Linked DNA regions of Homo sapiens: region 2 is linked to region 1. Evidence: fine-mapped expression QTL. A gene starts in region 1. The other region holds a variant in brackets. All regions are shown on one strand. Distances are from middle to middle. Region 1 holds the start of DAAM2 (dishevelled associated activator of morphogenesis 2). Region 2 overlaps DAAM2 (dishevelled associated activator of morphogenesis 2).

Evidence for each region. PIP is the estimated chance that this variant, and not a neighbour inherited with it, causes the effect.
Region 2: its variant is fine-mapped to the expression of DAAM2 in whole blood (TOPMed, PIP above 0.99).

Annotation. Positions count from the first base shown.
Region 1 is chr6:39,784,235-39,799,565 of GRCh38, reverse strand. It overlaps DAAM2 (dishevelled associated activator of morphogenesis 2), which reads right to left and starts at 7,190. Exons shown (of 25, transcript NM_001201427.2): 1 at 7,101-7,190.
Region 2 is chr6:39,815,991-39,831,321 of GRCh38, reverse strand. The region is part of intron 1 of DAAM2 (dishevelled associated activator of morphogenesis 2); the gene reads right to left. It overlaps LOC124901487 (a long non-coding RNA gene), which reads left to right and starts at 11,511. Exons shown (of 2, transcript XR_007059917.1): 1 at 11,511-11,625. RefSeq lists an enhancer at 6,602-7,162. The variant G/A (reference allele first, on the strand shown) is at 7,748.

The DNA.
Region 1 (15,331 bases):
TGAAGAGTTTTCTGTGCCCTCCCCTTCACCATCAGAATAGAACTTCATTTTTACATTATTCCACACACAATATATATCTGCCACCAAAATAAGTCTGCCACTAAAGTCTATAAAAATTATGCAACACATTCTGTAGTCAAACAGCAAAACTGTGCATTATTTGTTTGCTATTATTTGTGGCCATATTTCTATTACGGTGCTAACGAAAGAGCCAAATCCCAATTCTCTTGGCACATACCAAATCAACTCCCAATTATCTTGGCACATATCCATGAAAAGCCTACAGAAGACAAAACCCGACTTTTCACCACATCTGCTGACAAGAAATCAAAGAGTTGGTTTTAAGTTTCTTCCATCTTTCCCTGTCTCTGGCTACCCCCTAGAAGTGTTGTGGAGGGCAGGAGCCACCAAACAGTGGGGAGACGAGGACACAAAGTATCCACATAGTCGATAAACTGGGTAGCTCCTGCCCCTCTGGTTATGGAGACTAGCTCTTGCAAGCCCATCACACCTGGGCAAGTCCTACTCATTCCTCAAACTCAGACATGATTGCCTTGGATTAAGGGCCTAGTTGATATGGTTTGGCTTCCAGGCGTCGATTCTACAATGCAATTTGACTTTTATGAGCTGTAAACATGTAGAAAGCATGAAGGAGACTTGGTCCTTCCTCGACGGTAATGCAATGTGTTCAATGTGATGACAGAGTTGTGTGCCAGGTTCAAGGGAATAAGGAGGAAAAGGGGGTTGGAATGAGCCTTGTAGAGGGAATTTGAGAAAAAAAGGGACACCTGAGCAGGCCTTGGAGGATGAGTAGATCAGGAAGACCAGGACTGAGGCAAGGACTTTCAGGTAGAAAGAACTATGTATACAGGTGCACTGTTCTTGAGACTAGATTTGGTGCAATGAAACTTAAGTTAACCCTTGAGGACTGATGGGGATTGCTGGCCGACACAGCAATTGGTCATACAAAAGCACCTCACTCACACTTCCTGGGGCCTGATCTGTGTTGTCTTAAAAGGACACCATTTATCTCAGAAACCTCACATTAGTCTTTCTTCACACAAGCTTACTGACTGCCTATTTTTTCCTACTTCATCCCTTGATCTACCTTGTGATACTGGATTTAGATTTTGACTTTTGTCTAGTTAGTTCTCTATGTGGCTGATTGCTAGTAACTACAGCAACTACCATAGCTATAGCTAATGTTACTCTCCGCCAGGGGCTGACAACCCTCACAGTCATCCTATGAGGGAGGTATTTTATTATCATCCCCACTTTTCAGATGCGAAAACTGAGAATCAGAAAGGTGAAATAATTTGCAAGCTCTTTTAATAGGTAAGTGTTCCAGGAATCATACATAGGTTTATCTGATTCTAGAACCCATATTCTTAACAACCATGCAGTAATGACCTTCCCTAAGCTACTATACTTGCTCTGTTCATGTCTGGGATCCAGAGCAGGAGCCAGCAAACCTTTCCTGTGAAATGCTAGATGGTAAATGTTTTCAGCTTTGTAGGCCATGCAGTCTCTGTCACATCTACTCAACTCTGCCATTGCAGCACGAAAGCAGCCATAGGCAAAGCACAAATGAACAGAGATGGCTGTGTTCCAATAAAACTTTATCTATAAAACAAGATGACAAGCTGGGTTTCACTGTTGAAATTGACAACTTCTAATCTATGGTATCTTGTTCATTTGTTCATCTACCCAATGTTTATTGAGCACTTACCTTGTAGCTGGCACTCTCCTAGGCTCCAGGGATACAGGGAGAACCATACGAAGTCTGCACCCTCATAGGGCTTAAATCCTAGCAAAGTCTTGGCTGTTTCTTTTTCCCATGCCTGGTATCCTGGGTCCTAACTTTGGTGCTTTTCACTCCTCTTAGACCAGTGATTCTCAGCTTAGACTTCAGATCACCTGGGAAGCTTACAGAACTGTGGACGCCTAGGTTCCATTCCCAAGGAGTCTAATTAAATTGATCTGGGGTGGGCCCAAGCATTGATACTTTTACAAGCTCCCCCAAGTGGTTCTAATGTGCAGCCAGGGTTGAGACCCACTGCTTGGGGAACAGTTTGTTTTCTGTTTATTCCACTTACTTAAGGTGTGAAATATGGTAAGTTTTTTAAGTCCTCAGAATTTGGGCTGTGAAATGTGGTTAATATCAATCTCATATGATTGTCAACGATGTTTAAATGAGACAATGTACCTTTCAAATGATACAATGTTATATAAATTTAAAATACTGCTGTCATTGTGACATCATTATTAGATTTTAATGTTAGGTACTGCCTCAATGATTTCTGTCCTCAGTTTGACCTTGATTCTCAGGACAGTATTTGAGCTTTTTAAACAAGCTCTATGGAGAGCTCACTAAATAGCCCAAATTCATGGGTGAGTGAGCTAGTGGCCTTTCCTTTATTCCAATAGAGGGTCACATGGGGCTGCCATTTGCTTGGCATGGGGAGCACTGTTCTGTGCCCCACTTTTGTATAAAGGGTCTCCATCTCCAGGCTGAGATATCTGACCTCCAAGCACAGTTGTTAATCCTTGAATAAGTGGCTTATTTACTTTGACCTGTGGACAAATGTCTAAACCCATGTATTTTCACGGACTTAGAACTGGAGAGGGGAATGGCATTAACATTTTACTGAGCAGTTTGCTAGCTTCTTCCCTTATATCATTCCATTTCATTTTCAGAACAACCCTGGGGAATGAGAATAGTTATTGTTCTCATTTAACAGATAAAGAAGACTCAGAGAGGTTAGCAAGCTTGTGACCTGGTGGTGCCAGAACTCAAATCTCTGTCTGCTTGATTCTAAAGCTCTTCCTTGGAACCATAGGATGTACCACAAATAATTCAGCTCCTCTTTGGCCAGGATTGAAAGAGACATCAAACTGCCTAAAGTTCATTTTTTTTTTACAGGTTTTTTTTTTTTTTTTTTTTTTGGAGGGGGACCCCAGAAAGAAACCCATAACACCTATTAATAACCATAGTCTGATAAGTCTTGGCCAGTGCTAGCATAACGCTGCACAGGTTCCAAGAACAGGCACTTACTTCCTCCCCCCACAGCATCTTGACTGTGCAGTTTTAGAACCTCATAATGAAACAAAAAACAAACCAAAAAATGTGGAGAGAGTTGGAGAAATAGATGCTGCCAAGAGTGAGGAATTCACTGACCCCCGCTCTGGGCCATCTCAAGAGAAGTTGACCACTGGTTGAGCCTCTTAAAAGCTTAAAAGTCATCCCAGGCCATGGTTAAAGAGAGAGCTTGAACAAAACAAAAACAAATGTGATCTTCAAAATCTTAAATGTCAACTTGAAGGATAACTTACAAGCTTTGAGATGGGCCAAGAGGACCTGCAGCTGCTCTCTAACATCAGATGTTCCTTTGTTCCTTTGGAGTAGTCACTCCCTTGGATAATGTATCAATCAGGGTTCAGGGGGCAGCCTCCCACCCCATACCCACTGGAGATGTTTGCAATGACTAAAGCTTTCATTCTTTACAACCCATCAGATTCCCCCATTACTCTGACCTGAGCACCCTTGACAAGGAGTGGCTGCCTACCCGCTCTCTGACTCAGGCTTGTCCTTCAAGATCCAATTGGTCCTTGACCCTCCTGCCCTACCCCCACCTCCCTACCTTTCCCCTCCCCACCATACTTATACAACCTGCTCTTCTGTCCTTCTCCCTCCCTAAAGAGCACAAACACAAGAGTGATTTCTAGGCCAGACATCCAGGATCCCTGGTTTCTTCTCCCACACTTCAGGATAATGGACCAGGGATGCTCATGGAATATCTTCATTGGTCACCTTTTCTAGAGGAAGGAAGTAAGGATGATCAGAGCCCTAGAAACTCCACCCACTAGCCTTCAATCATGGAAAATATGTAGCTAGATTTGGGGAGAGGTTCTTTCCAAGCAATACTGGCTTGTGATGGCTGAAAAACTGAAAAATAAAAATACAGCACTCCCTTTATGAAGGGTCTTATAACATTCTGAGCTCTGTTCTTAGTTCTTGTGCATAAATGTTTTCATAATGACCTGGGGAGGGAAATACTATCCTTATTTTACAGATGAGGAAGCTGAAGCTCAGAAGGAATAAGTCATGTAGCCCAGGTTACTAATTCGTATTTAGGTCACAGTTCTCTCTCTCCAGGCAGCTGATCAGAAATCTGCACTCTTTCCATTGTTGTCGGGCTGCCTCTGAAGTCTAGGGCTGAATGACACAGGATCCTTGACAGAGTCTCTGGCTGTTGAGATCTAGAGGGTCATCCGCTATCAAAGCCAAGGATATCCTTCAACTTGTTCTTTCTGCCAGCTGTGTTTGCCCTCTGGACCTTCAAGGATGTCTTGGAATGCATCCCATCTACTTAATCTAATCTCAAAGATGACCAAAGAGCTGGCCAGAAGATTGAACTGATAGAATGAGCCATGAGAAGGCTTCAATGTCAGCCTAGGCATCCATGGCCTGGGAATTCATCCCGGCCATAGTGAAATGTCTCCTAGTACAAGCCCAGAAGCATCAGGACTCCACTGATCCCACATGCAGCACTCCCAGAAACCCCACATGTAGAAAGAGTTGAAAACCCAGTTCTTGCCCCTCACCTGTCCCTGAGGAGTTGTATGCTGGGATAAGAGTATTTCTGGGAATCCTGTTCCGAGGGGTCCCTTCTGTCCCTGGGTAGTCTTCTATGTTTAAATAATGGAAATGAATGAGAACATTTAAACTTGTTACTTCCATTGGCTCTAGTAAAATCAAATAAGAAAGCCTCATCTTTCATTATCTCTATGCTTTCTCTACTGCCTGTACTTACCCTTTATCTTCATTCTTTACACCTGGATCCAAGGCTCTTTAGTAATGGGGAGTTTAATCTGTTTTGCATCAAAAACTTTGGAGACAGTCGGGAAAGAAGACTGGGGAGAGAACATGTTCTCACAGCAAGCAGTAGTATTTCAACTTCCTCCACGCTCACCAAAAACAAAATCATTTACAGGCCTTCCTATTGGTCTTGCCTGCACAGCCTCCGCCTTCTTGAGCCCCTGACTCTCTAAGTTCTAATGCCCAGGAGAATGTTCTCTCCTCTTTTTGTCCTGATGGGGGCACGAGTATTCCCTCAGCATCCGAGGCGCTGGAGGAAAAGCTCTGAAAACTCAGCTGGGAGTTAGGAGCCAGAGTTTGCAACTACCAGGGAGCAAGACAATAATAGCACAGTTGTTTGCATAAAGGAAGAAATGGGGGTTAGATGGAGTTCCCAGCACAGATGAAGAAATAGACCATTTATCCTCCCATGTCTAAGGCCATGGCCATCACCACACAGTCATGTATGTGTAAAAACACATAGGCATGTGCATCTCATGGGGACCAGTCACTCCTGTTTACATGCACCCTTGTTTACATTGCCTATGGGATGATTTCCTCCTCCTTCATTACACTTCAGTTGACAACGTACTCCTGAAGTTAAATGAGTCTGTTTCTGACATTGCTGCCTGCTCCATCTTTTATGGAGCTTCCCTGGGGTTCAATTTATATAATTTCTAAAATCCTTCCTGAATCTTAACTTCCTGTGGGTCTGTTTTTACATCCAGATTTCCTCCCTGTCCCTTCATTTTCTCATTTTTCTAGGACAGAGGGAGAGTCCAGTAATCTTCCTCCCACCCAGACATTGTAGGTTGGCTCTACTGCAAAATACAAAACCAGAGACCTGGCTAGCTCAAAGCTGAAAATTCAGTCTGTCTGTGGTCACTCGTTTGTGGAACCCAGCTATTGACAGGCAGTGCCTGGCACTGTGCTACTCAGGGATGATGGATCGATACAGCCTCACTGCTGCTTTTTTCCCCTACTCTCCGTGGAGCACACTTTCCGCCCTAGGCCCTAGGGAAAATCCATCCCCCGCTTCAGCTGGCTTTGCAAAGAAACTCAGGAAACTAACACCAAACTCAGAAGGGGGAAAACACAAGACTTTGAACTTTTTAAAGATGGGAAGCTGCTTTCATTCCCACGTGGGCATCAAGGGAAAACCTATGGGGACTCTTTTCCGGAGAGGTGTGATTTTCCTCTAACCCTCCGAGAAACGTTCCAAATCCACTCCAAAACTGTGGAGAAGTGGCCGAGGCAGAGAGAGAAGAGTTAAATCAAGCCCAGATCTCAGCAATCTGTGTTCAATTTTGATAAAAATCTCCCTCTCCCCCACCGCCCCCCTTCCTCCACCCCACAGCTCAGACACGTCTCTTTATGTTAGGAGCTTGCATCTTGTTTGGGGCACCACACGCGGCACTCCTGGAGAACCTGGCACGTACCTCACCGTGGCCATGTGGCAGAACCAACCATCCCACTCCCAAGCTACGGCTGGACACAGGGCCACAGCGTCCTGGCCATCACCACCACCTCCCCCTCTTCCTTCTCATCCTCTTCACAAAATTACCTGCCGCCAGACCAAGTCCCTCATTCCCCGGTTAAGTCAGAGTCCCGACGCCTGGTAAAGTCAGGGCATGAGGTTGGTTTGCGACCGCAGGTGCTGAGAGCCCCAGAGTCCGGGGACCCCTTTCCTGAGATGCTCCTTCCCCCGCCCAGGGTCCCACTGCCACTGAGAACAAGAACCTTACGGCTGCCCTGCCCACTGGCCAGAGGCCAGGCCTGCAAGTGGGAGCTGGGGGCTTGTGAAGACTTCAGCCCAGCCAAGTGAAGGTTCAAGCCGAACCCGGAAAAGCCACCACCAAAAAGTTGTCAGTTTTGCGGGGTATCTTCTGTGTTTGTCCACTTGTGACAACCAGGGGTCAGGTTTCAAAGCCGCAAAAAACATTTTTAAAAAGTTTTCCAAAGACATTTCCTATGTCCAGATGTGCCAGTACAGACACACGCAATCACACTCATACACACACACAACTCACACACACACAGGCCCTGGGAGCCCACTCCGGGGTCGGCGGCTCCTGCAAACACTTTGGAGAAACAAAACCGCCAGCCTGCGGAGCTGCTGCCTCCCCAAGCCCCGCGGGGCATGCTAAAGAAAGCAGAGGGAGAGAAGTGTGGGAGCCCAGCGGAGAGGGCTCCCCGCGGCCCGGGCCCCAAGACGGGGAGCGCCAGGGCCGGCCGCACTTACTCCGAGGACCCCAGGGCGCCCGCGCTCCCGCAGCCCGAGGTACGGCGCCGCCGCCCGCGCTCCGCTCGCTGCTGCGTGCTCCGCGCTATCCCCGGGAAGCCGCGGCTGCCGCCCCTCCAGGCCCGGCCTCGCGCCCGTCCGCCCGCCCCGCTCTGACGTCAGGCGTCTTGGAGCGGGATATTTATGGCAAGGTTACTCTGAATTTTCCCTAGGTAGACTTCTGATTGCAGTTTCTTGGGATTTGTAATTTTCACACTTTCAGACCGAACGCAGGCGGGGGGAGAGCGCCACCGGCAGGGCGAGGCGTACAATGAGGGTAGCTGTTCCCCACTTTGGCAGGGAGCGTTCTCAGGGCCCCTTCTGTTTTGGAAACATGGAAGGGTCAAAGAGGCAAAAGTGGCCACCTGGGCAGCGGGTTTCTCCCCGGCTCCTCCTCTGGGCTACGGGCAAATGGCCTGGTCTGAGGCCGGCTCGGAGGTGAAGGTCCCGGTGCCAAGGAATCCCCTGTCCCTCCCCAAAGTGTCCCTGCACTGGACAGTGTGTCCCAAGGGGTGCTGGGCAAGACAGGAGCGAAATCAGGCACAACAGAACAGCTAATTAGGAGTCCTGGTCCACGCCCTAACAACTTTTCCATTTCTTTTTTGGGAGTGTATATATATTTTTTTAAGTTTATTTTTATTAAATTATGTTCCACACTCCCTGCCTCTGTATAGCTTTTCCAATTCAGTGCCAGTCAATTCATCTTACTTCATTGCTTGTATGCATAGTTTGAGCAGTTTACAATAGCTCTTATTCATACTTTTAAAATTTCCTTTTAGTTTTTTTTTTTCTTTTTTTTTTAAATGTGATTGTGGTCTGTCTCCTTGACTGAACTAGAGATTGCTTTGGTCAAGAGCAATTGTCCTCTCTGGGATTGGCAACACCCTCACGGGGAGTATTTGATCTTCTCTGTTTCCTATTTTCCCCAGCTCCCTCTGCAAGCAAATGGTGCCCCCACTGGGTGATGACCTGTATACAGTTTTCTGGGTGTTCAGTGGTTGTTCTGTGTTAGTGGTTGTCTGTTTCTCCACCTCACCAAAGGGGCTTAGGGAAATGGCTTGGTTTAAGGGCCACCCTTCCAGAGAAAAAAAGAGAATGTAATGCATGATCTTCCAGAGGAAAAAAAAAAAAAAAAGAGAATGTAATGTGTTATCCTTCATGGTTCCCAAGGATTGGAGAATGAAATGAACTTAAAATGATACACGTGAGATGCAAAATACTTATATGGTTAGACAACATAAGTGTTTAGGTATTCATCTCACCATGAATGGGAGGGGGCACGGATAATTGCAAATCATCATTAAAACACAACTATAGTGAACTTTCCATTAGCCCAAACTGGTAGAGGCGGGGTTGTGTTTTAACCACAGTTACAGTGCAGCAGGGACTCAAGGACTTGGAATGTGTTTACCTCTTTGGCAGCAGCTGGTTAGAGCTGATTGCCAGAAGGAGCTGTCTTAGGGCTGGGCCTCTCGGTAGAGGCCACGCTGTTTTGACCCAAGCCACCGAGGGCCCTGCAGCAGGGAGCTGCTGTTTGGTCACTGTGGGATTGCTCTCCCTGGCATAATACCCCACTTTTACCTCCTTCCATTCCCTCTCTCATATCAAGGCTCCACTGGCAAGGTGAGCTCTGTTCTTCAGCAGACCCTGCAAATAGGTTTCCAGAAGCCATTGACAAACCCATTCTCCCTTGCCTTTCTCAACTAAAGAAGTTAGAAATCTACAATATTCACCATCCCAGACTCCCTGGTAGCTCACAATTGCTATGAGACCAAGTTCTGACCAGTGAGATTGTAATACAGAAGACAGAGGATGCCTTCCACAAACTCTCTTTAAGAGAAGATCAGATTTGGCCAGGCGCGGTGGCTCACGCCTGTATTCCCAGCACTTTGGGAGACCGAGGCGGGCGGACCACGAGGTCAGGAGATCGAGACCATCCTGGCTAACACGGTTAAACCCCGTCTCCACTAAAAAATACAAAAAATTAGCCAGGCGTGGTGGTGGGCGCCTGTAGTCCCAGCTACTTCGGAGGCTGAGGCAGGAGAATGGCGTGAACCTAGGAGGCGGAGCTTGCAGTGAGCCGAGATTGCGCCACTGCACTCCAGCCTGGGCGACAGAGCGAGACTCCGTCTCAAAAAAATAAATAAATAAATAAATAAATAAATAAATAAATAAATAAATAAAAACACAAAAAAAGATAGGGCCAGAGACTCAGAGGTGGCAGGTTGGGGACATCATGAGGACAGAAACAGGGGAAGTGAGGCTGAGGAGCAAGCATTCTAGGTCTGGGAGAGGGGAGTCTCTCCATCCTTGCCCAAGTGTTTTGGAGGCAGGGTCTCTCTCTGTCACCTAGGCTGGAGTGCAGTGGCACGATGATAGCTCACTACAGCTTCGAACTCCTGGGCTCAAGGGATTTTCCCACCTCAGCCTTCCCAGTAGCTGGGACTACAGGTGCATGCCACTAGGCCCTGCTAACCTTTTTTTTTTTTTTTTTTTTTTTTTTTTTTGTAGCGATGTGGTCTTGCTATGTTTCCCAAGCTAATCTCAAATTCCTGGTCTCAAGCAATTCTCTCAACTCGAGAGGCCGAAGCGCTGGGATTACAGGTGTGAGCCATTGCGCCTGGCCCCCAAGCATTCTTAATTGGGTTCTATTGGGATGAGGAGCAAGTGAAATTCATAAAATACGTGGCTGTCAGTGCTGAGGAGCTGTTTTTGAGGTTGGCAAGCCCTGAAGAGTCCATGAAGTAGTAGGGCCCACTCGAAGATCATCTGATTCACTCCCTACCCCCAGCCCTATCACTCACAGGGTCCTAATGTGGGAGTCTCTCCTATTCTCAAGATTCCCAAGAAAGGGGTTTCATCCTTCTTCACCTGCATATTCTAGGAATGTTCCCGGAACATACAGTGAGGCCCTCTGTAGCACACTACTCATCTGGAAAATTGTACCTGCTTGATGAAAGATTCTCAAATAGCACATTATGGTTGACCTGGCTTCCAAAGCTCACTATATACTTCCAAGGCCCAGCCTATCATGATAAGAAGCAGGCTTCACAAAAGTCACTTGCTCACTCTCCAGGGGTAGAGATCCTAGTCTAGTACAGCATGGACCACAATAGCACTCCATAAAGACTTTCTGAAGAATAAATGAAGGCCCCATGAATATGTCATCTAATCAATATGTGACTCTCCGCAAATAACATATACCTTTCTCTGATTTACTATTGTGGACTATAGCAAGTGTTTGAACCAAAGACCTTGGTTAAATCCCAGCCCTGCCTCTCACTGCTGTGTGACCTCAGCATGGCAGGAAACTTTCTCAAGCATAGTTTTTGTGATGGTTAACTTCATGTGTCAACTTGGCTGTGCCACAGTGCCCAGATAGTTGATCAAGCATTATTCTGGATACTTCTGTGAAGGTGGTTTTGGATGAGATTAATATTTAAATTGGTGGACTTTGAGTAAAGCTGAGTACCCTCCATAATGTAGGTAGGCCTCATGCAATCAACTGAAATTCTTAATAGAACAAAGACTGACCCCCACCCCGCAAGAGGGAACTGTGCCAGCAGACTGCCTCAGGACTCCAACTGCAATGCTTCCCTGGGTCTCCAGCCTGCTGGCCTACCCCTGCTGGTCTACCCTCCAGATTTTAGACTACCAGGCCTCCATAATTACATAAGCCAATTCTTTAAAATCAGTCTCTCTCTCTCTCAATATTCATATACTACATCCTGTTGGTTGTTTCTCTGAATCTCCTATTAGTAGGAGAATCCTAAAAAATACAGTGTTCTTCAACAACAACATGGGATGAAAATTATTCCACCCTAAAGTATTGTTGTAAAGTTCAAATGAAGCAAAATAAATTGAAAGCCTCTACCTCAATAAGTTCTTCTGAAACTTGGAAGGAAAAGGATGCCTCAAAATTTCAAAGTCTTTTTCATCCTACCACTTATGTGGTCAGTATCAATCTGCTGGCTCTTAGACTCTGTTCAGGGAGGTGTCAAACTTTGTTATCAGGTGTGCTGTTAATGCCTAGAAGGCAGAAGCAACTTGTCTTGAACTGGACCCCATCCAGCACAGACACATCACACTTCAGGTATTTTGATCATGAGCCTGATCCTGGGGCCTATCCTGCTTCTGTCACTTCTAGTAAGGGATACAACCTCCACTGTTCAGGACAAGACTCCTGGACTTCTATTATCTCACGGTAACTTCCAAGGATACAGCTAAAGAGAGAAAAAGCCCATGGCTACCACAATTTCTTCCTGAAAGTACATACTTATCAATAGAACATGAACTGCATGTCCCAACAACTTGAAGATATTTTAGGTCCTCATTGTCATGTGGTAGAAATGACCCCAGAATATGGCATGAGAAAAACCTGGTTTCTAATTCCAGCTCTGACTCTTGTAAGTAAGAGCATCATTTCACTTCTCTGCAAAATTCAGACTAATAGAAGGACCAATCCCATGGTGCGAGAGTAAGGATTAAATTGCAGAATATTTGTACCTTACAGATGACCACTGTTCTTATATGCCTTTTCTTCTCTTTGCCCTCTTTCCTACCTCTATACCCACTCCCTCCACCCAACACACACAGCTCCTCTGTTAGTTAATTTTAAGAATGTACTCAACGTTAACGTACAGGTTTCTGGAGTCCAGCTTTCTGCAAACCTCTTTCTTGGAGTTAAGAAATCTCCCCTGGCTCAAGCATAACCACAGCAAATAGGCAGCAATCAGAAAATTGCCCCCATAAAGGCCATCTCCTCCTGAGGAGCAGGACTGCATTTTTGAGAAGCCTTCTCAGGTTGTTTGCAGCAGCTTTGAGGGTCGGCTCTGCTGCCTTGCCTACGTCAAAACCCCAAGTGTTTAACCACAAGACACACAATTCCAGGACATAGTGGCGGCGGCCCTCCACCCCCGCAGAGAGACAGGCCACGCGTATGTCTAATCTGGCATGTGGCCTCCCTCAAAGGCCAGCAAGGCAACTGTGGCCCACTGCACCACACCTGGCCAAATTGAGAGGGACTATCGCACAGTGAGTAGAGTGCCAAAATGGGTGGGAAATGGAGTGGAATTCTTTTCTGACCATCCTCCTGCCAATCTGTGATCAGAGCCCAAGGTCCCCAGTCTGCAAAGGCCATTCCTGCTAGTAGCCACCACCACTTTTGTTATTTCTGGAGCCAGGGTACTTGCACTGTCATGATCACATACAAAACTTCCATTATACCCCATTTTCAGTAGCTCAAAATCCTTTGAAAAATAATGCTCAGGGCCAAGTATTCCAGTTAGCTTCAGGGTAAAATTATATTTTGGAATATTTAAAAGAAATAAGTTTCCCCAGGTGATCTATATTGGGGGTGATGATGGGTCTCACACACACACACATACACACACACACACAGACACACACAGACACACACATACACATTTTTCTCCATTGAAAAATAGTTTGAAACTGCTTACAATGTTCAGGATGTGTGACTTTGGACTGGCATATGGATGTGTGTGCAACTGAGCAAAGACTCAGGGACATCAGGAGAAGCATGACACATTTCATCATTCAGTGGTTTTGTCTTTTAAAGGAAAATAGCTTAAAAATGGTAAAGTGATAATGTTAAGAATCTGTTCTTAATTACCACTCAGTAACTTGGCAATCTGTTTTATCCCATTCATTTCTTTCAGAAAGTTCTTAGCAACTCGTCTCTTAAGCTGTGTGTACACAATCACACTCACAGATATAAAGAAAAAGAAAACTCAACCTGGTTGCCCTTGGAAAGAGCACAGGACATTTGCACATTTAATTTGCATACACATTCTTCTGTATGCCAAATATTTATAAGCACAGATTTTCACACACTGGCAGGTTTCATAAGCACCCAATAATAGGCTTGTCTGACTATTGCATGTCGGTGGTTTGGGACCCCAGTGTGGAGACCTTTCTTACTTTCTTTAAAAGAAGAAGTAAAGAAACCCTCCACTAACACTTTGGCTCATTCGGTCCTGCTAGGTGCCAGGCACTTTCATAAGCCCTGGAGATATAAGATGAATAAGACGAGGTTCCTCTCCACAAGGAATTCATGGTCTAGTGGAGGAACTACGCCATTAAGCTTTACCACAATCAGGTTTAAAAAAAAGCAAAAACATAAAAACACATGAAACTTTCAAAATTCCCAGGATGAGGAGTAGGTGAAGGACAATAACATGTTGTCTCCCTTAGGCGAGTTTTCTGGATGAAGAAGAATATACCTTTCCTTTCCACTGGTACCTTCCAGGCTAATATTTCCAAAATACCTCCTATAGAATACTAATCCTTTGAAACAATTTTCAAAAAAGGTAGGGGAGGGGTCCTCATGGTCAAATAATTTTATAAAATCTATAGTCTATATGCCCTACTTGTAACTTCGTAGTTCATATTAACATAGTGAAGAATTTGAGAATTCCTATAGCAAAAGAGATCTGCCTACCTTTGCTTACCACAGTATTTATTCCCCAAAGTTATTTTTTCCTAGGTCCCATTTTTCACGTAATATCTATGAATATCCCATAGCTTTAAGAAACAGTGTTTAGTCTGATAGGGACCAGAAGTCTCTAAAAATAAACACGAGTGTAATAAAATGCCAAATTGGAAGTTTTAATGGGGGCAACAAGATACAATAGATAAGAAATTCTAAAATAATGTTTCAGAGTAAGAAGCAGATTTTCAAAAGGAAATATTTGGGAACCAGTTTTATGCCTCCAAAAATCCCTTCCTACAAGGAGTTTTTAAAAAGAATTGGAAGTGTGGGGGTTGAGAAAGAATGTTATGAGGAGGATTTCTTTGAGAGAACTGTACTGAATTTTTTACCCATTCCCACATTGAGGAGAGCTTCAGGGAGATGACTCAAGGACCTCACTAAGTGCCCCCTAAAGTTGGAACTTATGGGCAGTGTTGGACTCCAGCCTGGAAATCTAGAAGACAAGAGACACAGACGGTGAATTGATTTGGTGGTGGATTAAAGAAGAGTAGTTGCTTTGTTGGGAAGGCTGGTACTCCTTGAACTTGCCAGGACAAGGATTAATGCACATTTCCTGAGGACCATATATGGGCCACATGAAGAGAAAGTGAGCCAGGAACTATTTTCAAGATCTTTTCCGAAAGGACTACCTGAAAAAATTATGGGACCATGATGTTGAGAGTTAGTGTGAAGTGGACCATTGAAAAAGCCAGCCAAGTAAGAAAGAAGCAGCTGAAGGAAGAGAATACACAGCCAGTGTCATAGGGGTTTCAGTTAGAAGGGCCCAACTGAATAGGCTCTCAAGAACCCACCAAAGAGCTCACAGAAGAAAGAGTCTAATAAAGCCATTTTACAAGTATACCAGTCAAGTAACTACTTTCCTATGGAAGGAAGAACTTTTAGCTATGGCTCAGGTAAGGAGATCAACAAAGCTTATACCCCCTAAAGCAACTATACATCTAGATATAATTAACAAAAACAACCATTTCAGCACTCTGAAAATCAATCAAAGGCATATAATAATCTGAGAAGTATTTATACTTTAAAAACTGCTAAACTTTGGGTAAGAATAGTGGAACTCTTCGGTGTTCTAGCTTGTGACTGAGTCAAATTATTGGCTGACCACTATACTAGGCAAATACAAAGATGACCCTTAGAAAGGCAATCTTATAAATAAAAATTTGAATATTAAAAACAAAATTGAGCTGAGACATAATTGTTCACATGCTGCAGATTTCACTGATTCAGCCCAGGCAAGTTACAAAACAAATAAATTAAACAGCAACCTTCACGGGGAGAAATATCAGAATCCAAAGTTGTTGTAACAGATTATCTCAAATGTCTAGTTTTCAACAAAAAAAATCCAAGACACACAAATAATAAAGTGTGATTTATATGCAAAAAAAATTAAATCAATACAAACTGTCTTGAGTGTCCTCAAATGCTGGCTTTAGACAACAAAGACTTAGGCCAGGTGCAGTGGCTTACGCCTGTAATCCCAGCACGTTGGGAGGCAGAGGCAAGTGGATCATGAGGTCAGGAGATTGAGACTATCCTGACTAACACAGTGAAACCCCATATCTACTAAAAATATAAAAAATTAGCTGGGCATGGTGGCAGGCGCCTGTAGTCCCAGCTACTCAGGAGGCTGAGGCAGGAGAATGGCGTGAACCCGGGAGGCGGAGCTTGCAGTGAGCCG
Region 2 (15,331 bases), 32 kb before region 1:
TCTGAAATAGCAGCCCCGCTCCCAGCACCTCCCATCTCCCTTCCCTTCATTTTCCACGTAGACTTACCACCACCTGACAGACTATACATCCCATGTATTCATTATCCCTCCCACAAGAATGTATATTCCATGGGGCATTTTTGTCTATCATTCATTGCTGTATCCGCAGTGACTAGAATTACTACCTGGTACATAATAGGCCCTTGTAATAAAGAAGGAATATATGAAACTTACTAACTGTGTAGACTTAGGCAAGTTACATAACTCCCCACATGCCTTAGTTTACTCATCTGAGAAATGGAGATGATGCCCACACCCTCACGTTGATGTGAAGATTAAATGAGGCAACATTTGTAAATATGCCCACTCCGGTCCTTGGTACATGGTCGACCTGAGAGGACCAGTTTCTGCCTGATGGAGGAAGGGCCTGAAATGGTTAATCCCTGACTCTCCTCCCCCATGCAAAGCTGGTCCGGACTGCAGGGCCACTGGCAGCTATCCAGGTGGAGGCTAAATGTCAGAGGTGTGTGCCTGCAGAGCTGCCCTGGTCCTGATGCAGTCTTGACCCAGGCAGCTGGAGCCCCTCGCCACCCCCTCCTGCTGCCTGGGCCTGGAGCATTTGGGAGTGCAGGAGCAGAGTGGTGGGAACCTCCGCAGGCCTGGGTCCCACGCCACATCCTGGCCTTGGGGGAGGTGGGCCCAAGGCCTGGACTTGCTTCCCAGCTATTCCCAGGCGGCCCTCTCTCCTGCTGGCCCAGCTGCACTGCCTGAGCCGGAGGGCCACAGGGGTAGGTCTGTCTGTCAGCATCACTTGTCCCCACTCACGATGAAGAAGACGCAGGCCTCAGCACAAGCACAGTCTGGACTCAGAGCCCCACTCTGTCAGCCCTGAAGCCCACCTGCCTCCCTCCCTGGGAGGGAGTGCGTGGAATGACAGTCACAGAGGACTCACCGGACCCCAGCGACTCCAGCCTGTGGCTTCCCAGATTTCTCCAATTTCTCGCAATGCCCCAGCTTTTCAGCAACTTCTCTGAGAGTCATGCCTCTCCATGACGGACCCAGAAAAAGATGAAAATAGATAGACACAGGCTTCAGTGTGAATGCTGAAGATGAAATAAATGCAGTCCAGCATTGCCCCATGGGCATCCACTCCACAACCATCTATGAACCCCCACTCTGGGCCAGACACTGTGCACTGTAGGATGCGGCAGTGAATAAAACACAGACCTGATTGTAAAAATCTCCCAGTCGGAAAGGGGGTACAAATGTGAGCAGGCCGGGGTAGTGGGCAGAAGTATCTTGGTGGAGCTGTACAGGGAATGATGAGAGTATGGATGAAGGGTCTCTAACTCAGCGTGGGGAAGGAGGGAGCATGAGAAATCTAGAAGGGTGGTACCAAGGTGCTTCTGGCCAGCAACAACTTGGGGGAGAACAGAGGAGCTAATAAATGGAGAAATGATATTTCCCACCAAGGGGCCGGCTCAGAACGGCTCTGGGGAGGGTGCCAGCTTCAACTCCCATCCTCCCAATCTTCAAGCACTTTTACCAGAAACTAAGCCCTCTGAGGGCAGGGACCAGGTTCAGTCTGCATCCCTAGAATGAGGACAGGCATATATGGCAGGCACTGAGTAGAAATGTCTGAGTGTGCCAATGAATAAACAAACCCCTGAAGGTAAGATCACTACTGACCCAGGGACATGTTGCTTTTTTGTTATCCCACAGACATTAACATAAATTTCTATTGCCCAATTTCCTCTTGGTAAGTGTAAGAACCCTCACAGGCTATAAACTCTCCAACTGGTGCCAAATGAGGTATCACTCAGCCTCCAACACAAGCCTCTTAAGAGGGAACCAACCATGGGGTTCTGTCCATCACCCTGAGTGCTGCCAGCCTCCCCATCGATGGTCACCACAGTCACACTCCTTTGGTACACCCTGGGAAAAGCCGCAAGAATCACACACCACTGAGGATAATGGCCAGAAAGTCACTGCCAATGTTTGTGGCTCAGTATTTACAGAAAAACAGGATCATTCTGTGCTTGCTACCCACAACCAGTCATAGGCGCATGTGCAGGCCCATCCACACACCCTGTGTGGAACACACAGCCCGCTCCCCAGGCCCCTGCCATCAACAAAAGTATACAAAGAAGAGATGCCAATTGGATTTATCTGTTTAAACAGCATCCCGTGAAGCTGGTCCCTGGGTGAATTATCCAAACAGTAACCATTCTTGCTTCTTTCTTAAAGAAAAACTGTAGAGAGCATAAATTCTCCTTGCATCTCTGCTATTCATTCATGCAGCCAATATTTAATAAGGACCTACTATGCGTTAGCCCCTGCTAGTGGAACTGTGCTATGGTTTGCATGTCTGTGTTCCCTCCAAAATGCATATGTTGAAACTTAATCTTTGTTGCAATAATACTAAGGGTGGGGCCTTTTGGGAAGTGATTAAGTCATGATGGCTCTACCTTCATGAATGGATTAGTGCATTATAAAAAGGCGGGAGGCAGAGGCGGGCAGATCACAAGGTCAGGAGATCAACACCATCCAGGCCAACATGGTGAAACCCCGTCTCTACCAAAAATACAAAAATTAGCCGGGCATGGTGGCACGCACCTGTAGTCCCAGCTACCCGGGAGGCTGAGGAAGGAGAATCACTTGAACCCGGGAGGCAGAGGCTGCAGTGAGCTGAGATCGCACCATTGCACTCCAGCCTGGCGACAGAGCAAGAATCCGTCTCAAAAAAAAAAAGACGGAGGGGGGTGGAGGGAATTAGCTTAGGCCCTTTTAGCCCTTCCATTCCTTCTGTCATGTAAGGACACAGTGTTCTTCCCCTCCAGAGGAAGGAAAGGAACACAGACATGCAAACTATAGCATAGTTCCACTGGCAAGGGCTAATGCATAGTAGGTCCTTATTAAATATTGGCTGCATGAATGAATAGCAAAAATGCAAGGAGTACCTATGCTCTTTACAGTTTTTCATTAAGAAGCAACAAAACACCACCTTAGGAGCAGAGGGCAGCCCTCACCAGACAACAACTCTGCTGGCACCTTGATCTTGCACTTCCCAAAGTCCAGAACCATGAGAAATGTTGTTTTGGTTTATAAATTACCCAGTGTGTGGAATATTGGCACAAATGGACTAAGACATACTAGAAATGCAAAACTGAACCAGTCAGGGCTTTGCATTCTGGAAGCTAATAGTCTAGCGAGAGTCAGACAGAACAGTGGTTTTCAAACATTGTGCTCAGTGCTTCATCAGGGACAGGCCTGTGGGAGCACAGGTGAGAGGGAACCCTACTACCTGAAATTGGTGGGGAGGAGGAGGCGTTAGAGAGACTTTGTAGGTGTGGTGATTTTTGGGCTGAGTCTCCAAGGACAGCGAGGCGTTCCCCAGGTATGAGCCTTCAGGTAGCAGGGAGGGCAGGAGTTAGAAGTGTGAGCGGCAGGGCAGGCAGAGCTTGGGCAGCTGGCAAGATGACCCAAGAAGTACTCCAGGGCTCAGACATGAAGGGACTATACCCCTTGAATTCTGAAACTGGGTTTGTGATTTTCCAGATTCCCCTTTGGTCCATTAAGAGAGTTCATTCTCAGACCAAGGGGGTCAAGGGGTATCACACTTCACACAAAGACAGAGACCCTGAAGAGTAATCCAGGCATGAGGACCCCAAGGAAAAGAGTCAGGGAGAATCCTCCAGCCACTGTTTCTGAAGCCCAGGCCCCTGCATCCTACCAGGCCCGGGGGCACCTCCATGAGCCCACACACACAGAGCCAAGGCGTGAGTGAGGGCCACCATTCCCTGGGGTGGTGAAGCACCATTCCACAAACCCAGACCCAATAATCAGACTCTGAAAAAGACTACCCCCGCCCCACTTCAGCTCCTGGATAGCTGTGCCTTCCCCTCTTGAGATGTCACACTCCCCACCTGTGTGCAAATGGACTCAACTCCTCCTTTCTCCGACATGATCTGCAGGACGCCCCTCATACAGCTGCTGGCATGCACAAGACGTTGAGAATGAAGGTACTACCATTTAAAGACCGCTTTACAGGCGAGAAACTGAGGCCCAAGAAGCAGGCTACTTGCCTCAGGACCCACAGCAAACTCATGCCACAGCCATGTCTAGAACCCAATTTTCGAATTCACAGCACAGAACTCTTCTCTCCCACTACAGAACAGTCGCAGACAAATTCTGCTTTGCTTCCTGGTTTCTCCTGAGTTTCTACTTAAGTGGAAACAACAACTACAAAAATGCAATATAAAAACAAAAATTAAAAATTCCAAAAATCTTAGCCAAGATTCATTCATGAATATTTCCCCTAAATATTGTGAGCCCTGCTAGGATCCAAGCTACACCGCCTCTCTCTTTAAATATTCTCAAATACTCCAGGAAACTGATTCCCAACTTCTCCTGATTTCCTCACCTCAGATTTTCTCTTTGAAGCTTGAAGGGTACTTAGAAACTTCTCTTTAAAAAGAGAAGGTGCTCCTGACAGTCATTCCAAGACATTTGGATTTGCCAAGTTGAAGTTACAGAAACCTGTGACTATGCATACTAATTATTATTATTTGCCTACCATTAGTATGCTTTTTCACATTTCACATCTGATTTTTTATGTACATTTTTCTTAATTTTTGTGTGCAAACAGTCCTAATATGAAGTGAAAAAAATCACTGGCAAAAGGAGAAAAGCAAACAAACTAGCCTGGTGTCCAGGGATTCAAGAATTTCAGGAGGATCGTGAGGCAAATTGGATATGTTCTCCAGGAAAGGGGAGCTATTGGGCATATCAGCTACACAACCGATCACCTGAGGATTCCACTGGAAATGAAAAAGAGAGAAAGAGAAGGAGTCGAGAGTCCCCCAAAACCCTAAGTGGCTTCTCCCCAGCTTTAGGACACCACAGGGATGCTCACCTTTTAAGAGACTTGCTTTCCTAGAATAGCCCCAGCCCCTCACTTTGGGATTGTGCTGTGAATGACAAAGTACTCATGGCAGGGAGCCCAGAGAGTTCCAGCAGGTAAGGAGAAGACCCTCGAAAGTAAAATAAAAAAAAAATCTGCTACTAACTGGCAGTTATTTGAACTAGTTATACCAGAGACCAGGAGCAGGCCGCACAATCGCTTCTTCCCCAGGGCTCTTCTCCTAAGCTGAGAAGATGCCAGCCGTGTGTTTATCATTTCTCCCCACTATCTTTTAAGGCAGCCACATCCCAAGCCAGCAGGCAGAAGCTGGACCAAGACACATGTCCAATGGGGAAGGAGGCCAGGTTCACTGCACTAGGCATGAAATACGCCTTATCTCATATTTGCCAACACACCTGCACCATGGGGACACATAAAATGTGAACCTCATTCCCATTTCCCATTAGAAATTAAGAGATTCACAAAGCCCAAATAATGTGTGCTGGGCCATTTAGCAATGATAGAGCAGGACTGGGTCTCCCTCCAATTCCATTCTACCCAAGAGGTACAAGGACCACTGCATGTAGTGTGCAGGCTGTGAACTGCAAGAGAATCCCACATCCAAGGAGATACATGAGCCCACCCTGCCTGCAGGGCTTGTACACCTGGGAAAGAGTACACTCAGTACACTCAGTACAGATATCGGGGTGCAGAAAGCCAGTCCCACCTATGCTCCCTTGACTCCCCCCATTCCCACCTGCCCAATCACAGCCACGGTGGGAGCAGGGGAAGGACATATCTTATCCCTGGTACGATGGAGAGGGTGTGTGATCAGGTGACAGGGTGATTCTGTGAGTGAATGCACAGCCAGGCTCAGGAAAGTGCCCCCCAACACACACACACTGGCAGAGCTGGGCTACTTTACAGGAGTATGCTTAACTATGTTTCCTTCAAGAAACAAAGGCCCCCCACCAACCCCCCGACCTTGTGTTTTGTTTTGTTTTGTTTTGTTTTGTTTTGTTTTGTTTTGTTTTAAACAGTCTTGCTCTGTCACCCAGCTGGAGTGCAGTGGCGCAATCTCAGTTCGCTGCAACCTCCACCTCCCGGGTTCAAGCATTATCCTGCCTCAGCCTCCTGAGTAGCTGAAACTACAGGCGCACACCACCATGCCTGGCTAATTTTTGTATTTTTAGTAGAGAGAGCGTTTCCCCATGTCCGCCAGGCTGGTTTCAGACTCCTGACCTCAGGTGATCTTCCTGCCTTGGCCTCCCAAAGTGCTGAGATTACAGGCGTGAGCCACCGCACCCAGCCTGACAAAGACCCTTCTTAAATTCACATCCAGGCCCTGCATGGCTAAGCAGCCTCTCTGATCAGGCTCCTTCTTGGCAGCTGGCAGGTCAGCTACCTGGGCCCCTCTGAAGCCACCCCAGGTCACCTCTCATCATTCTCCTCCAGGAGTTAGACAGTTGGGATAACCTGGCTCTGGAGAGGAAGACTGGCAAGTCCCAAGAAAGTATTTGTGTCTCCCCCTGCTATTCTCATCCAGCTGGCCTTTCCCCATGGCCCTCACCCATGATAAATGCACCCTGGATGGGGAAAGAGGAACAGAAATTCCATGCTCTGGACCTTGCCTGGAGCTGGCTTCCCAACCATGCGACTTCCGCGGAACCTGCTCTTGCCGAGAAGGCACCAGTGGGTCCTCTCCAGCTCAAACATCTGCCTCCCTCAGCTTGTCCTGCCTGCAGGAGCTGGCCAGCTTCTCCTGCATGCTATGCTGATGCAAAGTTCTCTGTCCTGAATTGGCAGAACCACCTCTGTCAAGGATGTGGGGTTTGTTTTCTTAATTAACTGAAAATGCTAACATGGGAGCCCAGGAGCTGGCAGGGGCCTGGCCTTCAACCGCTGCTAGAAAAAAATCTTGCTTTGAAATCTGGATCTCTAACGCCCCACAGGGGATGTCAAAACAAACAGGGACACTTGATCCTGGAGCACAGGGCCTGGGGCAGGTTCAGGTTACAGGGCCAGAGATGGATTTAGCTACAGGATGCCACAGCAACCAACAGGTGACCAGATCCTGATTTCCCAAAATGGTACAGCTAGACCCCAAGATGCCCCCTGCTGGGGCACGGGCTCTAGGGGGATGGGGAGAGGTCATTGGGATTTATGCCAGCAATACTTCCTGAGTGCCTACTGCCCAGCAGGCACAGAACTGGGGGCGGGGGAGGCTGCAGAGATAGCCAAGTTCTATTGACTCCTGCGCTTGAGGAGATAAAATTAGGAACAAATTACTAATGTGTAGCACAGAAGGCCCCCAGAGCTGAAATATTTACTATCAAGACCTTTGCAGATAATGTTCACTGACTCCTAATGTACAAGACAGAAGAGGGTAGAGTGGAGTCTGGAGAAAAGACGACCAGAATGACCACCCAGGGCCCAGCTGAGGGACAGTAACCAGAGAGTGGAGATACAATGGAGCATCATTCAAAAGCAGAGATGACAGCAAGACCCAAAACCCCAGCAGGGGGAGGAGGGAAAGGAGGTGGAAGAGGATGGAGAGGCAGGGGTCCTCAGTCTCCTGCCTCCAGCCTCCAAGACTGGCAGGACATCCGATCCAGAAAGGATGCTGATTGCCCAGCCCCATCTAAGGGCCAAAGCACCAGGCTAGCATGATACAGCCCTGGATGCCCCCAGGGTGGTGAGGCACAAGTCACATGCACAGTTCTGTACACCAGGGATCATGCGATGGCCTTCTCACCTAACAGCTGGGCCTCAGGAAAGGTCAGAAGTTCTGAATGACCACAAAACATCCCTCTTTGGGAGGAAGTCACACAGTGTTCCAGGGAG[G/A]CCCCACACTTCCCCCTTCCCGGCACAAGTCGTCCCATCTGCAAAGGCCCAGAAAGGAGCAAGTTTGCTTGAGGTCAGAGATGCTATGTCAGAGCAGAGCACACCAATCTGAACTCAAGAGTCTTCGTTTTTCCTGACTTGCCTGTTCCTCTCTGAGTCTCTGGCCTAGGTCCATCCTGAGCTTGGAGACCAGCAGGTTGGAAGATTCAGAACCCCCAAGCTGCTTTGCCCCAACCTGAACTCCTCAGTTTTCTTCACCCCCCAGGAGAGGAGGATGTTGAACCATTTCCTCTTGGGACACCCATACTGCACATCTCCCTTCCTGCAGTAGAATCTGTCGATGTAGCCTTTCTTAATCTTTGGGCCTTTGAAGCACACAGTGTAGAGCCCAGTTTGAGAAACAAAGCATTGAAAGTTAAAAACTATCATTTTAGGAAACCACTCGGTGCCAACTTGCACAGAAACACAAACCTGGGGACTAAAATCGCATGCCAATAGTAGGTTATATGGTGGTCATTCAGATGATTCAGAATAAATGCCTCCAATTTTTACAGTATTATTATTAAAATGAAAACAAAGAAACATTTCTCAAGGAAAAGCACATTCTCAAGCAGAGTCTCAGACCTTGGAGAAAACAATCACACAATGTTCCCAGGGGTCTCTGGGGCCCAGTGTGAAGGGCTCTGGCTGGGGGTGAGGACCCAGGCTATGGAGTTAGGCTGCCCTGGACCCTTCCCTGTCCCAGCTGTGTCCTGAGTGCCCTCTACAATGGCTGTCACACAGTAGGCCAGCAATTCAACTTTGTTGAACACACAAATGAATAAATGGTTAGACGACTTAAGAGGTTCATCCTGGCTTTGCCATTTACCAGCCCTGCATCTTTAAGGAAAGGTCCTTAATCTCTGAGCCTTAGTTTCTTAATCTTTGAAATCTACAAAATTAGTCACAAGTCAATAAACTACTGCAAGAATTAAAGGAGATGCAAAGCCTTTAGCAGAGTGATTGGTGCATTCAAGGTACAGAATAAATGGTAACTATTATTGTTACTTTTCAAAAATGGCTTTAATCTCACATCCAAAATATCTTTCCAGCTCTGCACACCTTCCCAATTCCACCATGCCATATTATATTTTGGTAAATCCCCAGCACAAAGCCTGGCACAAGTAGGAACACAGAAAACATCTGTTGAAGCATAATTTAGCAGAAAGTGTCTCTGATTTGGAAACCCTCGGGTGAGTGCCAGGGGCTGAGGCTTCTAGCATTTCCTGCTTCCTCCATGGGAGGCCACCTCTTTGTAACAGACCCCAGCCCTCCAAACTGTACCTGAGCATTCAAGGCCAGGAAGCTCACCTGTGTCCATGCCACAGGAAATGGGACGGGGGCATTTGCTCTGCAGAGGGTGGGGATGCTGGCTGAGCCCATCCCCCTGCTGCATAGACTTCTCCTCCCATTCCTTCTCACTCCAGCTCTGGGGAGCGTGGGCCTCCCCCCAGGCAGCGTTCCCAGGCTTCAGCAGTAACAGGCCCTCCATTCTTCCCTGCCCTTGGCAGACCTGCCTCCTCCCACTACGACACTGTCCGCTGCTGCTCATGGGCAGCTGCCTCAATCCAAGGAGACAACGCAGATTTCTTGGGGCCCAGGCCTGGTCTGTCCCCTGACCCTATAGGAAGAAGAGGAATTGGTCCAAGTCTCCTCCTGAGATACACTCACAGGGTCACTCATTTCACCCTCAGGCTGCAAATGTCACTGGTCTCTGGCATCTTCACAAACAGCACTCACTGACCACACTTTGTTTTTCCCAAATGAGGGAGAAATCTGACATCTGCCCCTCCCGGATCTTCACTCCTTGGGCCAGGCTCCAGCTATGTTCAGATGTCAACCCCCAGCTCCCTGCCTCAAGGTTGACAACCACCAGGATAAGGTGGGGGGCTATCCCCAAGTTCAAGACTCGCTACCCACTGGGGATCCCAGTCCCCACCTCTGTCTCCTCCTTCTCACATTTGCCCATCAGATACCACTGGCAAGAGTCACCAGAACTCAACCCAAAATCTGCAATCCACAATCCAAGGAAGAGGATGTAACGCGGCTTTCTTTCACTTACCAAGTTTATCCAGCTATTTTCCAACTTTCTTTTTAGGAATCCTGAGCTCAGTCCTCAAGAATTATCTTCTGATGTCCCAGAGCTGGGTGCTGGGAGCCCAGGGCCACAGCAGGGGGCTGCAGACAGGGAGTCCTTCTGTGGGCATGGATTCCTGGGGTGGGGTGTGCTTGATTTGAAGCAGTGCCCCCTCCTCTGGAGGCTTCAGTACTAAAATCCAGCCCAGGAGTGTCCCAACCACAGCCCAGCAAGGTATCTAGCAAGGGAGGCAGGGCCACTGTCAGGAGCAGAATGTGTGGCTCTCTTTCTTAAAGGGACAGCCTGCCCCAAGAGCCCGAGGTGGGTGGAAATGCTAGAAAGGAAGGAGCAAGGGAGGATAAGCTAGCATCCTCCAGGGAAAAACTCTGAACACACACCAGTCTGTGACTCGGCACTAGCCTCATCCTGTGGTATGACAAGCTTCTCCACTTTCCTGATGTAGAACATGGAGGCAGAAAGACCCTTCCCCAAGGGAACTCACCTACTTTCCTCTAGGGCTGAACTCACCCAGAGGGTGTTGCAATAACCCATAAGAAATATTAATTATTTGCTATGTACACAGCACTTTCCTAAGTGCTTTGCATGAAGAAAATGATTTAGTCCCAATAGGAACTTTAGGAGGTAGGTATTGTGATTATTATTCCCATTTTACAGATGAGGAAACTGAGGCCTGGAGATAGTAAATTGCCAAGGTCTTACAGGTAATATGTGAAAAAATTAGGATTTGAACAAAACTGATTCTACTGGAGCTCAACCACTCATCTTCTACCAACCTTGTCCAGAGGGTAAATTTCTTTTTTCATCTTTATAGTTTTTAGTATTTTCCACATTCTAAAATAGGCATTATTCTGTATACAGAGAAAAAAAAATAAAGATCCCACCTTCTATCTCTCACTCCAATATTTCAATCAAGACGAGACTAGAGCGAGAAGATAAATGTATTCTACGTGGAAGCTCTAAGAGGAAGGAGAGTAGCAAAATTAACAGGACAGTGCAGCAAGGCTATGATTAAATCTATTTGAGTTAAGTTTTGCCTATTATAGATCCACAGGCAGGTTTTAAATAAAATTAAAATAATAGCTTCTTCTTTCAGCCAAAAACTGAAATAAAAAGTTTTTTAAAACCTGGTAACTGAAAAATTCAGCGAAGTCCAGGCTCCTCATAGATTATCCAAGACCTTTCCTAATTTGATCACCAGCTCCCTCCGCAGCTTCCCCCACATGGTCCCACCCACCCCACCCAGCCACCAGGCCAGATTACCAGAGGTTTCCATAAGCCTCTCCAGCACGCTGCCACTCACTCAGGCTAGGATGCCCATTCCCTCCACCTGTGCAGTCTTTGCCATCTTTCCAGACCAGGTTAAACTGTCAGTGCTGCTATGGAGGCTTCCACCCCCACGAGCAGAGTGTTGAACATTAAAAACTCCTTCCTCTGTGCTCTCACAAGCTTTGCCCGTTGCTATGGACTGAATGTGTGTGTCCTCTCAAAATTCATAGGTTGAGGCAGAATTCCCTATCTGATGCTATGTGTAGGCGGGGCCTTCGGGATATGATTAGGTCATGAGGGTGGAGCTCCCCTGAACGGGATTCATGCCCTTATAAAAGAGACCCCAGAGAGCTGTCTCATCCCATCTGCCATGTGAGGACACAGTGAGAAGGCTGAACCACCAGACGTCAAATCTGCCAGTGCCTGGATCTTGACTTTCCGGCCTCCAGAACTGTGAGAAATAAGCGTTTGCTGTGTAAGTCACCCAATCTATGGTATTTTGTTAGAGCAGCTTGAACTAAGACATCATCCAAAGTCTATTGTTAGAGGTAGCATCACATTGTATGCTAATTAACTGAGCATCTTTTTTTCACTTTTCTGTCCCTAGCACCTAGCACTAAAATCTTGTGGAGTCAGGCAGCTCATGATAGTAATTCTTATTGTTTGAGAGTGTGTTTGAGAGTGTGTCATAAGTGTTTAGTTTTGTGGGCACTTCCTCATGAGTTACCTCATTTGAACTTCACAACAATGAATAGGCATTAGATGTGTCAAATGTTAGTACTGGAGGAGGTAAGTAGCATTTGAGGTCCTTGTGACTCTGCCCTTTGAAGACTAGGTTTGCCCAGATGGACCTGAAGGACTGGCCAGGCTCCCCAAGCCCATTTTCAGCTGGGCCAGACTCTACACCGTCCCTGCCTTCCACAGGCCTCCCTGTGCTCCAACCTAACATCCTCTTGTCCTCAGCTTCCCTCCAGCCAAACAGAAAGCCAGTGGGCATAGAGATGATGGTGATGCTCACCAGCTGGGGTGTAGCCTGCATTCTCTGTGAGTTAGTGCATGCAAAATGGCCAAAGCACTGATGAGAGGCCACATGCCACATTTTCAAATAAGAACCCAGAACAATTCTGCCAGTTTTGTGGAGGAAAACCCTGTTATACATCCCTGAGGCTGTACCCCCTGGCACTGGCATCACTGAAAAAGGGTGTGGAACAAAGGCACACAGAATGTCAGAGCCAGAAGGAACCTTAGAAATCACATTGCTCAACCCCACTCTAGACAAGGAAATGAGGGCCCACACTCAGGAGAGGCTTGTCAGAAACAGTGACTCAGTAGCAAAAAACACAGAGCGACAGCTGGCTCCTGAGCCCTTTCAGATGATTCCGATCCAAGCAAGAAAAAGGAACCTAAAGAATTTATACTAAAAGGAGGTCACAAAGGCCAAATTAATTGCAAGGCATACTTCAATTACACAGCACACAAATGGGCTTTAAATGCAACATCACACACAGAAAACATGTTATAAAGAAAACAATACAGAAGAATAACAGGACGATGTTCAGTAACAGTGTTCAAATTTAGTCACCCTGGAGGCCAGGCCATGCTACAACCCATGTTCTTCCATGACCTCTGCTACGAATGAATTGAGCAGGTAGAGCTAAGTCTAACACTATTTCTGCATTGTGTTAGTAGAATGCATTAACGTCAAAATACCACAGATTAATACTTTCTTTCATCCTCAGATAAAATAATTTATAGTTGTTCTAGTTGTTGGTGCTTAGTCAAATATTGTTGGTCCCCACCCCCGATTACACACAGAGGATGGTACTTCCTGGGTCCTTGTGTTGGGTGGAGTCATGTGGCTAACTTTGGCCCATTCGCTGAAAATATGAAGGGTTAATTTTATGTGTCAAGTTGGCCATGGGACCAGGTATTTGGTCAAATACCAGTATAAAGGTTACTGTGAAGTTTTTTTTTTTTTTTTTTTTTTTTAATTGAGATGCAGTTTCACTCTGTCACCCAGGCTGGAGTGCAGTGACGCCACCTCGGCTCGCTGCAGCCTCCACCTCCCAGCTTCAAGCGATTCTCCTGCCTCAGCCTCCCAAATAGCTAGGACTACAGGCGTGTGCTACCATGCCCGACTAATTTTTGTATTTTTAGTAGAGCTGGGAATTCACCATGCTGGCCAGACTCGTCTCAAACTCCTGACCTCAGGTGATCCACCCACCTCGGCCTCCCAAAGTGCTGGGATTACAGGCGTGAGCCACCATGCCCAGCCAGAATTTTTTCTTTTTTTAACATGAGATGAACACTTAAATCAGTAGACTCTGAGTAAAGCAGATTACCCTCCATAATGTGGGTAGGCCTCATTTGATCAGTTGGAGGCCTTCAGAGAAAATGACCGAGGTCCCCCAATGAAGGGAACTCTACCCCTAGACTGCCTTCAGTCTTGAGCTGCAACATCAGCTCTTTCCTGGGTCTCCAGCCTGCTGGCCTACCCTGCAGATTTTTGACTTGTCAGTCCCACAACCATGGGAGCCCATTCCTTAAAACAAATCCAGATATATGTAGAGAGAGATCCTATTGGTTCTGTTTCACTATAGAACACTGATGAACAGAAGCATCATTAGTGGTCTAGAGCTTTTAATTGTGAGGACCAGACTCCCTTTTCCTTTAGAACAGCAACTGCCAACATTGAAGACAGGGCCTGTTCTGCCAGCCTCAGTTCCTGAGGGACTAAAACAAGCAGAGACCCTCTGTTGATCCACTACCGACAGATAACATGAGTAAGAAATACACCTTTGTTGTTTTCAGTCACTGAAATTTGGAGATTGTGTGTTATTACGCATAATCTTTTACTGACTGAAGTGCTCATTGTTTATCTTAGATTTAAGACATTAGGGGGCAAGGAGAGAAACCCAGAAAAGTAATAGAATCATAAAAGGATTTTGATCCTGGCCTCCCAGAAAGACTCCCAGGCACATGGCCCTTCCTCCAGCTGCATAGTTTCCCTGTTGTGTATGTTGGGATCCTGGGAGTCTTAACCCAGAATCCAGCCACAGTTGTGTAAGTGCATCAAAGGTGCGATCTCACTGCTGAAACTTCCCTAGAAAATGTTCAGAGCTCTGCTGAGGAATCTGACCTGGGCCTAGGATGGGAAGCCCTCCAAAGAACAAAAGTTTCCACTACGGCAACAAGAATGTTAAACACGATTTTGAAAAACTTCTCAGCAAAAGAAATGTGATGATGAGTATTTATAAGCCAAAAACCAAAGGCCATTCCCTAGTTCCTGTGAGGTTTCCCGCCACACGGGGAGCGTTAACAGGACTAGAGACGGTACTGGAAACAGACCTGGATGTCCTTGGCTCCACTGCAGATGGGTTAAGTGTGGAGCCTTTGAGAAAAAGCAGTCACAAAGTGTTGATGATTCTCCTTGGAAATCAAGGGTGATCCAGAGGCTGCTGGGACTCCTCCATACCTTTCTTCTCAATGAATAAATCCAGGCCCCTGAACTTAAATACAGAGGTAAAGTGTGGGGTAGAATAAGATATAATGGACTTGAACTATTACAGGAACTATTTAGCTGAGACCAGCAGCTCTCAAAACTGGGGGTGGCTACCCATCACACCCCCTGCCCCCAGAGACATTTGGCAATGTCTGGAGAAGTTTTGTGGTTCTCGTAACTAGTAAATGTTACTGAGATCTACTGAGTAGAGGCTCGGGGTGTTAATAAGCCTCCTATATACAAAAGATAGCCCCCCCACAACCAAGAATTATGTGGCCTAGTATCAAGATTGAGAACCTGTGGCTGTGATCAAATCCCTAGTTATGAGGGTGTGAAGGTTTAGAACAAGAGCAGGAGAACATTTATAGAGCAATATGCCCCATTGCAAAAATAAATACATTGCAGTCAAACTGTGGGACCTCAGATAAGCAGTATCAGCATTACCTGTGAACATGTTAGAAATGCGCAGCCTTGGGCTCTGCCCCAGACTCCTGGATCAAATTCTTTCTCAAGTATTTACTAGAAAAAATACAACGTGTGATTCATATACCTATAGAGAAAAACCAAAACTATCACTAAAGCATCCTGAGAGGTAGCACAGTTCATGTCAGTAGGAAAAATAAATCTTCATTGCTACTCTTCTCCCTATGAGGGAGGAATCCAGCATGAGAATCAGGGT